Homo sapiens: one gene and its partners. The protein of the gene in region 1 purifies or fractionates together with the protein of each later gene. This does not show direct contact. Each region holds a gene or a part of one and is shown on either strand. Other genes may lie near its edges.

Region 1 (3,500 bases):
AACAGAGTGAGACTCCATCTCAAAATAAATAAATAAAGGGGGAACGGCAAACAAATACTGGATTTTAACTATGTCCTTTCAGACAGAGAGGTCAAAAGCAGCCTTGCATATCATCTGGAGTCAACTGCTCTTGCTGAAATTCTCCTCCAAAACCCCACAACATCTTTATCAGCTGGTCAAGCTGTACTTTATCTTCTTCACTTAGAACTTTTGTCACCTCTCTTTTCTCTAAGGCAAACCACACATGCCGCATAATCGCAGTCACAACATACCTTTATCTTCCAACTGGGGACAGCTTTGAGTGAAAAATATCACTAATAAAAATTAAAACAGGGCAATGGTGTAAACCAGGACTGTCCCAGACAACTCAGGATGTGCAGCCACCCTGTGCTGCCTGTGCTTACTCTGACATAGAGGAGAAGCAGCAGTGCCTGTTTGCAGTCACCCACCTCATCTGTAAGAAACTTCGGAATGGACTGCACAAGTGGCAGGAACCATGCACCAGTATGGTGAAGGGCCTGGGTTCTCTGCTGGAGAGCCTCTGAGGGATAAATAACAGGTTCCTTAACGCCAGGCAATTTCCTTTGTTGTGATTAAATCAAATATGTCAAAGGCAGCCATTCGATCTTACTATCTCATTTTTCTTTCAAAAGGCCTAGAATCTCCTAAAATCCTAAAAGCTAAACCCAAAACCATAGCTGAAACTTTCTAACACCTTATGTTTCCTCCAGCTGTACAGAACTAGTTGAGAGGGAAGGAATGCTGACCTTCTGGGGCAGGCTGAGGAGTCTTCCAGTATGCAAACCCTTGCTGTTTGGTAGGTTTCTGGTTTCCCAAGATGAAATACCAGAATGACACCTTGATAATTCCTCTTCTACACCCCCTTCTCTTCATCAGAGTGAGCCTTGTTTGAGCAGTTATGACTAAGAGGCGCAAAAAGCATCAGTGAGTGGTGAGCAGGCTGGAGACAAGGCTGGCTGACAGCCCAAAGTGAGGCTCAGGGCAGGATAGGATGCAAAACTGCAGTCCTCCAGCTTCCCTGGATGAAGAGAGCAGGACAGAGGACATAGAGACAGCCTGTGGGTTTGCACTTCCAGGCAACCTGGGCTCTCCCTGCCCCAACTCCCCACTGAGCTCACTCAGCATGGCCTCTTACTCCTTGCAGATAAGCGACCTTACTGCAAACAAACCGGGTTAGAGGGGAGTTCTGGCGCTTCCCTCAAACTTCTGTGTTCTTGTTACAGATAGGCAGGCATGAGCGGGGCAGGTGAGGGCTCTTCCCACCTACCAGGAATGTCAGGTGATCACCAGGTGCCCATTCAACAGTTAACATATTGCCTCTCTAAAAACGATCATTTAGCAGCCAGCGCCAAGGAGAGACAATCTCCTGAGGGTCCACAGCTGCCACATTAAAGTGTTAATTAAATGCAGATGCCAGAGAGGGGCAACTTCCTGGGCATACACATCAGGAGACAAAATGGCAGAGTATGACCTTCTGGGGGCACTCCACAGGAAAAAGAAAGCCACAGATGGGCATGCGTACAACTTCCTAAACACACTGCTCATGCTCACCTCCCAAGCTTAAGAAGGGCACTGTGCATGCAGGCAGCCCACCCTAAGGGATGAATCATGGAGAAGGGAGGGGTGCAAGACGCCAGAAGTGGGTCAGCCTATAAAGTCCTAGGATTACGGTTAAACACTGCACTTGGCTGGGCACGGTGGCTCACGCCTGTAATCCCAGCACTTTGGGAGGCCGAGGCGGGCGGATCACAAGGTTAGGAGATCGAGACCATCCTGGCTAACACAGTGAAACCCCATCTCTACTAAAAATACAAAAAATTAGCCGGGCGTGGTTGCAGGTGCCTATAGTCCCAGCTACTCAGGAGGCTGAGGCAGGAGAATGGCGTGAACCCAGGAGGCGGAGCTTGCAGTGAACCGAGATCGCGCCATTGCACTCCAGCCTGGGGGACAGAGCGAGACTCCGTCTCAAAAAAACAAAAAAACAAAAACAAAAACAAAAAACACTGCACTTGACCTTCACATTGCCCTCTTGGGTCTCTTCCAAATGTACTTTTCTTTCTTTCCTGCTCTAAAGCTTTTTAATAACTTTCACTCCTGCTCAGAAACTTGCCTCAGTCTCTTTTTCTGCCTTATGCCCCTCAGTGGAATTATTTTTTTCTGAGCAGGCAAGAATTGAGGTTGCTGCAGATCTGTATGGATTTGCCACTTGTAAATCAAATACCTTCTACCCCTAACATTCTTTTTTCCAAAAATGAATTTAAAATATCCTACACAGAGCCATTCAACCAGAGGAAGACTTGGAAGGAAAGAAGGAAGGAGGACAGTAGAAAAGGAGAGAAGAGCAGAAGGGGATGGGGGAGCAAACAGGACAGAGAAAGAGAGCAAGCAAGCTGGCTGGCACTGTTACATATTTTCCTGAGAAGACCCTAATAACCATGTGAAGCAGCTATCTGGTATAACATAATCTTTTTTATTTATTTATTTATTTTTTTTTGAGACAAGGTCTCGCCCTGTCACCCACGCTGGAGTACAGTAGTGTGATCCCAGCTCAGTGCAACCTCCGCCTCCTGGACTCAAGCTATCCTCCCACTTCAGCCTCTGGAGCAGCTGGGATTACAGGTGAGTGTGTGCCACCACGCCCCACCAATTTTTGCATTTTTTGTAGAGACAGGGTTTCACCATGTCGCTTAGGCTGGTGGCAAACTCCTAGGCTCAAGTGATCCACTGGCCTCGGCCTCCCAAAATACTGGGATTACAGACATGAGCCACTGCGCCCAGCCCAACATGATCATTTTTTAAAAGATAAGAGTGGCTGTGCGGGGCATGGTGGCTCATGCCTGTAATCCCAGCACTTTGGGAGACAAAGGCAGGTGGACCATTTGAGGCCAGGAGTTCAAGACCAGCCTAGCCAACATGGTGAAACCCCATCTCTACTAAATATATTTAATACAAAAATTAGCCGGGTGTGGTTGAGTGAGCGTGTAATCTCAGCTACTTGGGAGGTTGAGGCACAAGAATCACTTGAACCCAGGAGGCGGAGGTTGCAGTGAGCCGAGATTTCACCATAGCACTCCAGCCTAGGCGACAGAGCGAGACTCCATCTCAAAAAAAAAGAAGAAAAAAAAAGATAACAGAACAAAAACCTATTTAGAAAACTTTTGACAGCAGATCCTTAAACAGAACACCTTCTGGGCAGGTGGCTCACACCCTGTAATCCCAGCACTTTGGGAGGTGGAGGCAGGGAGATCACTTGAGGCCAGGAGTTCAAGACCATCCTGGCCAACATGGCAAAACCCCGTCTCTACTAAAAATACAAAAATTAGCCTAGTGTAGTAGTGCACACCTGTAATCCCAGCTACTCAGGAGGCTGAGGCAGGAAAATCAGTTGAACCTGGGAGGCAGAGCTTGCAATGAGCAGAGATTGGGCCACTGCACTCCAGTCTGGGCGACAGAGGGAGACTGTCTCAAAACAAAACAAA
Region 2 (3,278 bases), on another chromosome or scaffold:
TCCCCTGGCAGGAGCACCACACCCTGCTATTGACCAAGAGCCTGCACGATGGTGGTCTCTGGAGACCCTCGCCCCAGCCTGGGAGGCAGCCACACAACAAGGCCCCCCGCAGTGTGGGCTGGAAGACACTGACAGCCTGCGGCGGCAGGAGCGAGGGTACCCAGCATGTTGACATTTGCCAGTTTCCTTGATGTAGAGACTGCTGCCAAGGTCACGTTCAGGCTACCATCATGTCACCTGGTGCAAAAATGCCTGAAACCTTAACAGTTGGCTGTCAGGAGCTACATTTAACCATCCGCGCTGTCATGAGCCTGCTGGGAGCCTGCACAAGCCGGCTCTGCACCCTCTGCGGGGCTCACGCAGGTTCAGCTCCTGCAGCCCTTCCGGGGCCACAGCTGTGGATCCACAGGTCCCTCAGCTCCATGGCACTGCAAGGTCTGGGGGAGGGGGAGGCTCGGGGTTTGGGCCGCAGAGTTGCCGACGACAGAATCCACACTTGCTGACTGAAGCACGAAGAGCTTTACTGAGGGCTCACAGAAGGGCCGAGAGACAACAGAAACAGACACCGGCACAGGCTGGGCCAGCAGCATGGCCCGCTCACACCTGCCTCTCCAGGTTACACAGTTCAGGATCCAAGTCCTGTGCAAATGCATCTGACTGGCGAACAGAAATCCCATCAAGAACAGCTGCAGGGAGACTGGGGTCACGGTTTTCAGCTCCTGGCCACTGCGGTCCAGGAAGGCCAGCCAGACCAGGCCTAAGCCAATCCCCCACATCCTCCATGAGGGGACCTGCCAAGAGCGTCCAGGACTCCGCGCCGCCCTCCGTGCTATGTGCTGTGGGGCCAGCTGCCTCCCAGCCATGGACCACACCTGCTCAGAGTTCCTTAGAAGCCGGGCTCCTTGCCTTGCTGCCTTGGCTCTGGTGACCTCTGCATTTTGCAGACACCCGGGAGGAGCTGCCCAAGACGGCAGCCCCACTCCAGACCCTGTCTGATGGGCCGTGCACGTCTGCACATTCCACAGAATGTGACCAGCTGTGGAGCTCAATACAAAATGGCCCTCTGCTGGCCGGGCCCTGACTTCAGCCTGGACACTCGTCCCCATGTCCTGCCCAGATGATCACTGGGCAGAGCCGGAGATTCCTGGCTGCTTTGGTTATGAAACACATGTCCAGGTTTAGCCCAACCTCATATGCAGTTTACACTCTCATCTACCCTCCCTGTAGGCAAGGCTGGGGGCCCCAGGCTCTGTGGCGGGAGGTGGTCCCCGGTTCCCCTCCTGCCAGCAGCCCCTGCAGAGGAGGCCGGGGGTCTCTCAGGGCCAGATTCCACTTCCCCAGGGCCCTTCATGAGAGGAGCCTCCTCACTCACCCACAGCTGCCAGCACAACCCACTCCCCACTGCCTGTCACGCAACCCCCGGCAGGCCCACGCCCCGCACCCATAGCCTCCAGCCAGCTCCTGTGGGGCCTGCGCCGTGAGTGGGCCTGGGAGTCTCCCTGGCCTCAGTGGCCTTCCTGCCCCAGGGGGCCCCACCCCACCAGGGATGGTCCTGTGGATCAGGATGGCTCTGCTGGTGGCTATACCAGCTCTGGGCCCATCCCCCACTGCTGGACCCCACCCCGCACAAGGAAGCCTCTGGGCAGGCATCTGGGGCTCCAAAGCCCAACAGGAAACCAGCAGGGAGAGGGCCCGGCCTGGGCTCCTCTCCTAGGGTTAGGAGTTAGCTTTAGAGTTGGAGTTAGGGCTGGGTTGGGTTAGGTTAAGGGTTAGTATCAGGGTTAGGGTGAGGATTGGGTCAGGGGTTAGCATCAGGGTTAGGGTGAGAGTTGAGTCAGGGGTTAGCATCAGGGTTAGGATTGGGTCGGGTCAGGGGTTAGCATTAGGGTTAGGGCGAGGATTGGGTTAGGGTGGGGGATGGTTTAGGGGTTAGCATTAGAGTTAGGGTTGGGTTGGGGTTCAGGCTCTGCCTCCCATGATGCCCAGGTAGGTTCCCGGGGTGAAAGTGGTGAATGGGCGGCATCAGGAAGCTAAGCCCTGCCCATCCAGTCTGGCTGGAAGATTCTGGCTCCCCGGTGGCCCAGGAGTCACAGAATACCCCCAATTTCCTATCCCCTCCCCCTGCCTTGTCTCGCAAGGCCGAGACCTCCACCATGTCCACACTGTGAACTGAGACATTCCCTTTGTCCCCGCCTCACCGCTATCAACACTGGTGGCCTGGCTGGTGTGGGGCTGAGCCCACGGCCTCTGCAGATGTGGGAAACTCTTGCAATCAGTGCAGCATGGAGGCAGAGGGGCTGATTTGGCCTGGGCATCCCAACGGGCAGCAGGTCCCAGGGTGCACATGCTCACATCTGGGCTGCAAAGAACTGAGTCACAGGGAGAGGCGGGGTGCTCTGGGGCAGGCAGCGATGTCATCTCAGGGGTGCTCCGCCACCCCTCCTTCCGCAAGTGTCCATCATGGGCTCCAGGCCCCGCCAGTAAAGAGGTCACAAGATGGGAGAGGAGGGGACGGCAGAGAAAGGAAGTGGAGGGAAGGGCAAGGGAGGGGAGGACATTAGAGGGCAGGAAGGGGAGGGCTGTACCCCGGGAGCGCTGAGGACTTGCAAGCACCCACGGTGGGAGCTCCAGTGAGCATGAAGGAGCTTTGGGGTCCCACAGTGTTGGGGTCTCTATGGTCTTCCTTAGAGGGGAGGTGCTTTCACCTATGTTGGTGGGGCAGGGGGCACAGTAAGGCCAGGACGGTGGGCAGCTCATGGACCTGACTGAGCTCACAGTGCAGGGGACAGGGCCTCCGGTGTCCTCCTGGTCCTCTCCCCATCTCCTCCTCCCAGCAGGAGGTGGACAGGGGCCCAGCAGACCTTCACCAAGGAGAAGGCCAGACCCTGGGCTGAGGCAGCCCAGCAAATTGGGGCAGGGAGGGACGGGCCTGCCCCTGCCCTGTGCACCTCCTGAAGGGCCACGTCTGGGTGATGTCCAGTGTCTGGGCTGATTCTAGGGTAAGGACAAATGAAGAGTCCCCTGGCAGCAGGGAAAGGGCACCCCAAAATGCGAGATGGGACTGGCTGGCACCCACAGGACACAGGGCTGAGGAGAGGCCCTGCCTTCACCACCCAGGCCTCAGTTCACACTCTCCTTGGGACCTGGGGTCATGCGTGCTGGGCAAACCCACCACAGGCACCCTGGCATGGAGAAGGGGTGGCAGGAGGACGCCAATCACCATGTGACCCTAGGCCTGCTGGCCAGGCCAGCAACAGTTCACCTGCCCTACCTGCATC
Region 3 (3,500 bases), on another chromosome or scaffold:
GATAAGGAAAATATAGTATATGTACACAATGGAGAACTCATCAGCCATAAAAAACAAAGGGATCCTGTCATTTGCAACAATATGGATGAAACTAGAATACATTATGTTAAGTGAACTAAGCCAGACACGGAAAGACAAACTGCATGTTCTCACTCATTTATGGGAGCTAAAAATTAAAACAATTAAACTCATGGAGATAGCAGAACGATTGTTACCAGACGCTGGGATGGGTAGTTAGGGGCTGGGGGAGTGGGTATGGTTAATGGTACGAAAATATAGTTAGAATGTATAAGGTCCAGTGTTTGATAGCACAACAGGGTGACTACAGTCAACAATAATTTGTAGTATATTTTCAAGTAACTAAAAGAATATAATTGGAATGTTTGTAACATAAAGAAATGATCAATGCCTTGATGTGGTGGATTAAAAAAATAATAATAAAGTAGTAATGCTCTGTCCCAAAAGCAGGCCTGGACAGCTTATATCTTAAAGTCCCCCAGGTAGCTCTTAACAAAGTTAGTGTTTTGAAAGGAAAATAAATCTCAGGATCCCCAAATCTAAGCCAAAGAGAAAAGTCAAGCTGGGAACTGCATCAGGCAAAACTTCCTCCCATTCCATTCCTAAACAAGTGTATGTCGGCTCGCTTCCTCTGTCCTATTGTTTCACTAACCCAGACTAAGGCATAAGTGATTATTTCTGTAAATTGTGCACTCAGTGAAAGGCTAGTCAGAGACTCCAAAAAATGCAGTTGTTTGTCTCTTGTCTACCTATGACCTAGAATCCCCTTCTCCGGCCTTTCTGGACCAAACCAATGTTTATCTTACACATATTGATTGGTGTCTCATGTCTCCCTAAAATGTATAAAACCAGCCTGTGCCCCAACCACCTTGGGCACATGTCATCAGGACCTCCTGAAGCTGTCATGGGTGCATCCTCAACCTTGGCAAATAAAGTTTCTAAATTGGTGAGACCAGCGTCATATATTTTGGGCTCACAATATCTAATGTCTTCATTTTGTGTTTGGCACAATTTTGCCAATTCTTACTTCCAAATATTTCTTTGAACTCTGATTCTGATTCTCTCTGCCCTACAGGGGCTCACCCCAGCTCCCAACCCATCATTCTATTACGTGGTTCAGACTCTACTGGATTCCAGCCAGCATACCACTTACCATTCCCAAGGACTTCTTTAAAACAGCCTTGTCATCATTTTTATACTGACAAGGCAACATAAGACCATTATATAAAAATTGGAAAATGCAGAGAAGAAACATAATTTTTTTTAAGTGTATATTGTCTCACAGCCATTACAACCCTTACTCCCATTGTTATCCTCTTAACAATGTCCTCCCCTTACTCCATGGTGGAGGCCTGATCCACCCACCTGATAGCTAAGGTTTCTGGTAAATCCCCACAGCTTTACTCATGCAATTGAACCTTCTACTCCACTAGTGTAGCCAGTGCCACCCAGGGAAGCCAGCCTTATGGCCATCTCAATTACATCTCCACGTATTGGGACCCCTGCTCCCCAACCTGGGGTGCTTTCCCTCTCAGCTCCATTCCTAAAACTTCCTGCCACAAATGCAAAGCCCATATCACCCATAGGTCTTTCCCCAACTCTTCCTGCTCACTCAGTGCAAGTTAAAAGAGTAGACGCTTGGGTGGCTGCAAAGTCCAGGCCCTTAGGACCTCTGAAATACATGGTGGGGGAAGGACACCTACATCACCTGAGCTTCTGTCCTTCTCCATTTATAAAAATGAAGATGATCACACCTCCCTACAGGTGGCAGGATATTAAATATGATAACTTCTGTAAAATGGGAACCCAGTGCTCAGAGGCAACAGGCAGCCAACTCATCTTAGCTCTCCTCCTTTTGAAAAATTTCTATAGCAGAGGTTCTGAGTTGTGAAATTGCGCTGTGCATTCAAATCACCTGAGCAGCATATGCAAATTACAGTGGCAGGGGTCCACCCCAGAGAAATCAAGCCAGAAGATCTAGGTGGAGCCAGGAGCCAGGGCTCTACAGGCAGGGAACCCTGGAGATAACACCGGCAGTTCTTGCTGTCAGACCCAAACAGATCCACCCTGCTTACTCCGAATCCATAGTGTTGTCATTTCATTGTGAGCAGCTTATCTCCTTAACAATTACTGCATGTAATGGGCACTAACTACATGTTTATTGTACATGTGATCACACAAAATAAAAATGCAAACAAAAAATGAAACTTTAATACAGGGCTTATTTTATCAAGGCTAGGACTAGGGTGTGGCAAGAGAGGAGCCAGAAGAATCCATATAAAGATGCCCTTGATCTCAGGATGGTGCAAGGCCTAACATTATACTTGCACAACACTGAAACTCATCACTTCCTTTAAAAGCATGCCCTAGGTGCCTCCCTTGCCTATCCCGACTTTAGCCTCAGGATCCTACTGGCAAGTGGCAGCCACCAACTATGCACTGAAGGCCTCTGCGTGAATCCCAAACTGAATGCTGAGGGTTCACTTACTTGTGGTACTGGTTTAATAGGTTTTTCCATCAAGCCTCCAACATAAACAGTGTTGGGAAGCAGAGGTCGAGCAAAATCAAAGGCAAAGTCAGAGTTAATGAACCACAACTCTGCTTTCAGTAGAAGATGAGACAAAACTGGCCTAGAGCCTTCTGTGAAATGTTCCTTGATGGTGTTGTCAAATGTAGACTGCATGTGCTGTTGCCTCCTGCAGAAACTAAAGAACATCAGAAAATTCTTCACTCGGCCCCAGAAGTCCATGTGATCAGTCAGCAAGGAACGGAATACTGGAACATAAGACAAGGGGATTGGTAGCCCAAATTCCAAAGAGCCGAATGAAGTGGAAAGAATGGCCACAAATGGCTTCCCAAGCTTCTCAGCAATCAGGAAAGGACAGTAGTCAAAAGTTTCAACTATCACCATGTCGAAGTTCTCATTCTTTAAGGAATCCATGATATCCTTTCTATTTAAAAAATGACTGCACTGCAACGCCAAGTATTCTAGAACATTTAATAAGTTTTCAAATTTTCCTCTGTAAGAAAAAAATGATAATAAATATTCATGGGAAGTGTTAAATTTACAGTACATAAAAGTATCTTGAGATACAAAGAAAATATCCCAGGAAAGCAACAACCTTTCTAGCAGTCACCCACAAATTCAACCAGTTTCCCACAAATACCCTCTGCCATAATTATCCTGGCTTAAATGTTTCTACTCCCTAGAGTGTACCCTTCTCCCTTCCCCTTTTCTCTCCTTATCCAAATCCCAACCACCATCAATGCCGACTCAAGGTCTTCTACTCTGGGAGCCATCTCTCAGAGCAGCAGATCTCAGAGTTCTATCTCATTGATAAATTAGGTGACACTCTGTTTAGCCCTCATTTACACATGGAGTTTTTATGAGTGATTTTCTTATTTATCCAACCAAATTGTGTAAGTAACTTGATGATAGAGTTTATCAATATTGATGATATGTGCTACGTTTTAGCACTATG
Region 4 (3,500 bases), on another chromosome or scaffold:
CTTTAACAGATGTGCTAGGGAAACACTGTGAAGATAGCAGTCCCCTGACCATTGGATGCAACTTGCAGCATTATTGCATCATCTTCTAAAAAGAAAGAACTGAAAGCTAGAAATGTCTGTACTTACTCTGTAGGTTACAGCAAAATAACGATGAGGTGGAAAAAATGTAGTTAGGCACAGCTTGGTTTTATACATTGTAGGGAGACATGAGACATCAATCAGTATGTGTAAGATGTACATTGGTTCAGTCCAGAAAAGTGAGACAACTTGAAGTGCTGGGGGTGGGGTGAGGGGGCACTTCCAAGTCACAGGCAGATAAAAGACAAATGGTTACATTTTTTTTGTCTTTTTTTTTTGAGACAGAGTCTTGCTGTGTTGCCCAGGCTGGAGTGCAGTGGTGAGATCTCGGCTCACTGCACCCTCCACCTTCCCAGGGGTTCAAGCAGTTCTTGTGCCTCAGCCTCCCGAGTAGCTGGGATTACAGGCATGCGCCACCACGCCTGGCTAATTTTTTGTATTTTTAGTAGAGACAAGGTTTTGCCATGTTGGCCAGGCTGGTTTTGAACTCTTGGCCTGAAGTGATCCGCTCGCTTTGGCCTCCCTAAGTATGGGCTTACAGACCTGAGCCACCGTGTCCAGCCGGTTGACTCTCTGATTAGCCTTTCACGGAATATACAGTTTACCTGTGACAAAGGTAGAGGAATAGTCACTTATGCCTTTGTCTGGCTTAGTGAATCTGCAGTTTTACATAAACAGTAGGGCAGAGGAAGCAATCAGATATGCATTTTTCTTAGGTGAGCAGAGGGATGACTGAGTTCTGTCCTTTGTTTGTACCTGTGAAGATAAACTGTCAATTTACATTGCCTGGGTGAAATTCAGCAGAATTGTTTTGAGGGGAAGATCTTGAGGCCCACAAGGAATTTCCTTGTAGGTAAATTGTAAGGGACGTATATAGCTTTTTTTTTTTTTTTTTTTTTTGAATCTTTGTAGCTATCTTATTTAGGAATAAAATGGGAGGCAGGTTTGCCTGATGCAGTTCCTAGCTTGACTTTTCCCTTTGGCTTAGTGATTTTGGGGTCCCAGAAATTTATTTTTCTATCACAGTATGTCCTTATGATGTCATTATAGTCTCAGGGTTGTCATAAAATTTAGAGTGGAATGAAATAATTTTGATTCAGGTTAATCTATAAAGTTTGATGCCCAACTGTGCTTCACATAGGAGAGAGTGGCTTAGTGTGACGTCGTATCTACATACCCAAAATAGGAATCATAATTCTAGATCACTTTTTAAAAAGGACATAGAGCTGATTATTCATATGTTTTGTTTCTTTTAAATCAGTCACTGGTTTTATCCTGTGCTCCAAAAGATATTACCACTATTTCTCAAAGTGTTTAGGCATCTGGATAACAATCAACAAGTTCATTCAGTTTTCCACATGTTTTGGTCTCCTGGGAGCCAAGCACCCAAGCTGCTGATTTATTTGAGGAGCAGAGAGAAAGACATATTTTTGTTTCTTCAGTTTTCTGATTTATTTGTATACCTGCCAGAAGTTTTAGAAACCACAATGCCTGGCATGTTAAATAAGATCATAGTGAAGTTTGCTGGAGAGTGGAGTTGGGAAGATGAGGAGTGCCAATGATTTTACAAGGAATTATTTTCACAGTTTTGTCCTTTGGAGACAGGACTCTTGAGTTGGAGGAAATGGGCCAGCCATGTGCTGGGAATATATGCTAAGAAATAACTGCTTTTCTGTCTCTTGTGTTTCTACTCCTATGGTAGCAAAACCACATACAGACATTTAGGTGACGTGACTGGGCTGCTGTGATGATACAGCCTCAGTTTCATTTCAAGTTGCTGTAATGACCTGTGTTCCTCTTTTTAAAGATAATGGGAAATTCATCCGAGTTCCAGAAAGCCGTCAAGTTAGTGATCAACACAGTTTCATTTGACAAAGATTCCACCGTCCAAGTCTTTGAGGCCACGATAAGGTAAAATAATGAATATTCATAAAATGAATTGGAGACTTCTTTTTATGTGTTTAAAGAAAAAAATACCTTTGAGGGTCTTTTTGCCACATGATCCAGGCAGGGAGTCCATATGGGCTTTATGGGTGCAGTGTGCATTTTTCATGTTCATATCTGTCAAAACTGGAACAATTATTTCAAAGTAATCACATTCCGGACTGAAGGGAAAGACACGTTTGTATTTTGTTTTGTTTTTATAGATTAAACTCTTTTTTTTTTTTTTTTTGAAATGGAGTCTCTGCCACCTAGGCTGGAGGGCAGTGGTGCAATCTTGGCTCACTGCAATCTCCACCTCCCAGGTTCAAGGCATTCTCATATCTCAGCCTCCAGAGTAGCTGGGATTACAGGCACTCACCACCACACCTAAGTTTTGTATTTTCAGTAGAGATGAGATTTCACCATGTTGGCCAGGCTGGTCTCGAACTCCTGACCTCAAGTGATCCGCCTGCCTTGGCCTCCCAAAGTGCTGGGATAACAGGCATGAGCCACCATGCCTGGGTACATTTATGTTTTAACGGGGGTGTAAAATAGGTGTCTGTCTAGTACAGAATTTCATGGTTTCCCTTTATAGTCTGATTTCATTTTCTTCTTTCACCGTGTCCTAGGACAACCCCTACATATTTCTGAAGGAAATGAGAGTTTCCCATCTTACCACCCACAGAAAATCACTGCTTACCATTTTAGTATATTTCTTTGTTAGGTATATCTCTCACTTCTATTTCTCTCTCTGTCTCTCTCTTTTTCTCTATTTGTTTAGTGGATTGGGATCATGCTGTATACCTAGTATATTGTATATTGCTTTTTTTGATACATTGTGGTTATTTTCCTGTTTACATCTTTTGAAAATTGTATCAACTGCATAACATTCCAGTTCACAGATGTAATACTTATTTAAAATTAAATTGGTGAAAACCTTTGTTCTGACATATATCACAGCCTACTTCAGATCTTTAGAATGGGACTTTATGGGTCTACAAGGACTTAGGTATAAGCTGGTAGCCTGCTGCCTCTTAGTAGGTCATTTTTTCCTCCTCCTCTTCACCTTGCCTCTTTACCAGATGTTACGGTGTTAGGGAAGTTGCTTGGCAGCCAAAACAACAAAAATTACTTAGTATTTGTTGTCTTACCTTTCTCTGTTTTTTTTTTTTTAATTTGAATTAAATTAAATTTTTTTTTTCATTTTAGAGCAGGGTCTTGCTCTGTTGCCCAGGCTGAAGTGCAGTGGTGCTATCACGGCTCACTGCAGCCTTGAACTCCTGGGCTCAAGCGATCCTCCCACCTCAGCCTCCCAAATAGCTGGGACTACAGGCAAATGTCACCATGCCCAGCTTCTGTTTTTTTATGAGTGTTTTCCCCAAGTGAAATAAATCAGGAGTAATTTAATAATACTAATAGGTAATATTTATTCTGAGAACAGTTAGTACACTCTTATTTTTTTTTTTAAGAGACAGGGTCCTGCTCTGTTACACAGGCTA

The links. Proteins that work in one complex are often made in the same cells at the same time.
Region 2: the proteins of MPPE1 (region 1) and LRRC3 purify together in Homo sapiens (affinity purification with mass spectrometry; 2 studies listed by BioGRID and IntAct, with this or other methods). This does not show direct contact.
Region 3: the proteins of MPPE1 (region 1) and UGT3A2 purify together in Homo sapiens (affinity purification with mass spectrometry; 2 studies listed by BioGRID and IntAct, with this or other methods). This does not show direct contact.
Region 4: the proteins of MPPE1 (region 1) and EDEM1 purify together in Homo sapiens (affinity purification with mass spectrometry; 2 studies listed by BioGRID and IntAct, with this or other methods). This does not show direct contact.

What each region holds. Positions count from the first base shown.
Region 1 is NC_000018.10:11,901,818-11,905,317, forward strand, and holds part of MPPE1 (metallophosphoesterase 1), read right to left. Parts: intron 1,040-3,500; exon of another isoform or gene 450-1,039; intron 1-449.
Region 2 is NC_000021.9:44,459,419-44,462,696, reverse strand, and holds the end of LRRC3 (leucine-rich repeat-containing protein 3 precursor), read right to left. Parts: 3' UTR 501-3,278; downstream 1-500.
Region 3 is NC_000005.10:36,046,383-36,049,882, forward strand, and holds part of UGT3A2 (UDP-glucuronosyltransferase 3A2 isoform 1 precursor), read right to left. Parts: intron 3,039-3,500; coding exon 2,507-3,038; intron 1-2,506. UniProt on the Homo sapiens protein: UDP-glucuronosyltransferases catalyze phase II biotransformation reactions in which lipophilic substrates are conjugated with glucuronic acid to increase water solubility and enhance excretion.
Region 4 is NC_000003.12:5,197,707-5,201,206, forward strand, and holds part of EDEM1 (ER degradation-enhancing alpha-mannosidase-like protein 1), read left to right. Parts: intron 1-1,885; coding exon 1,886-1,989; intron 1,990-3,500. UniProt on the Homo sapiens protein: Extracts misfolded glycoproteins, but not glycoproteins undergoing productive folding, from the calnexin cycle.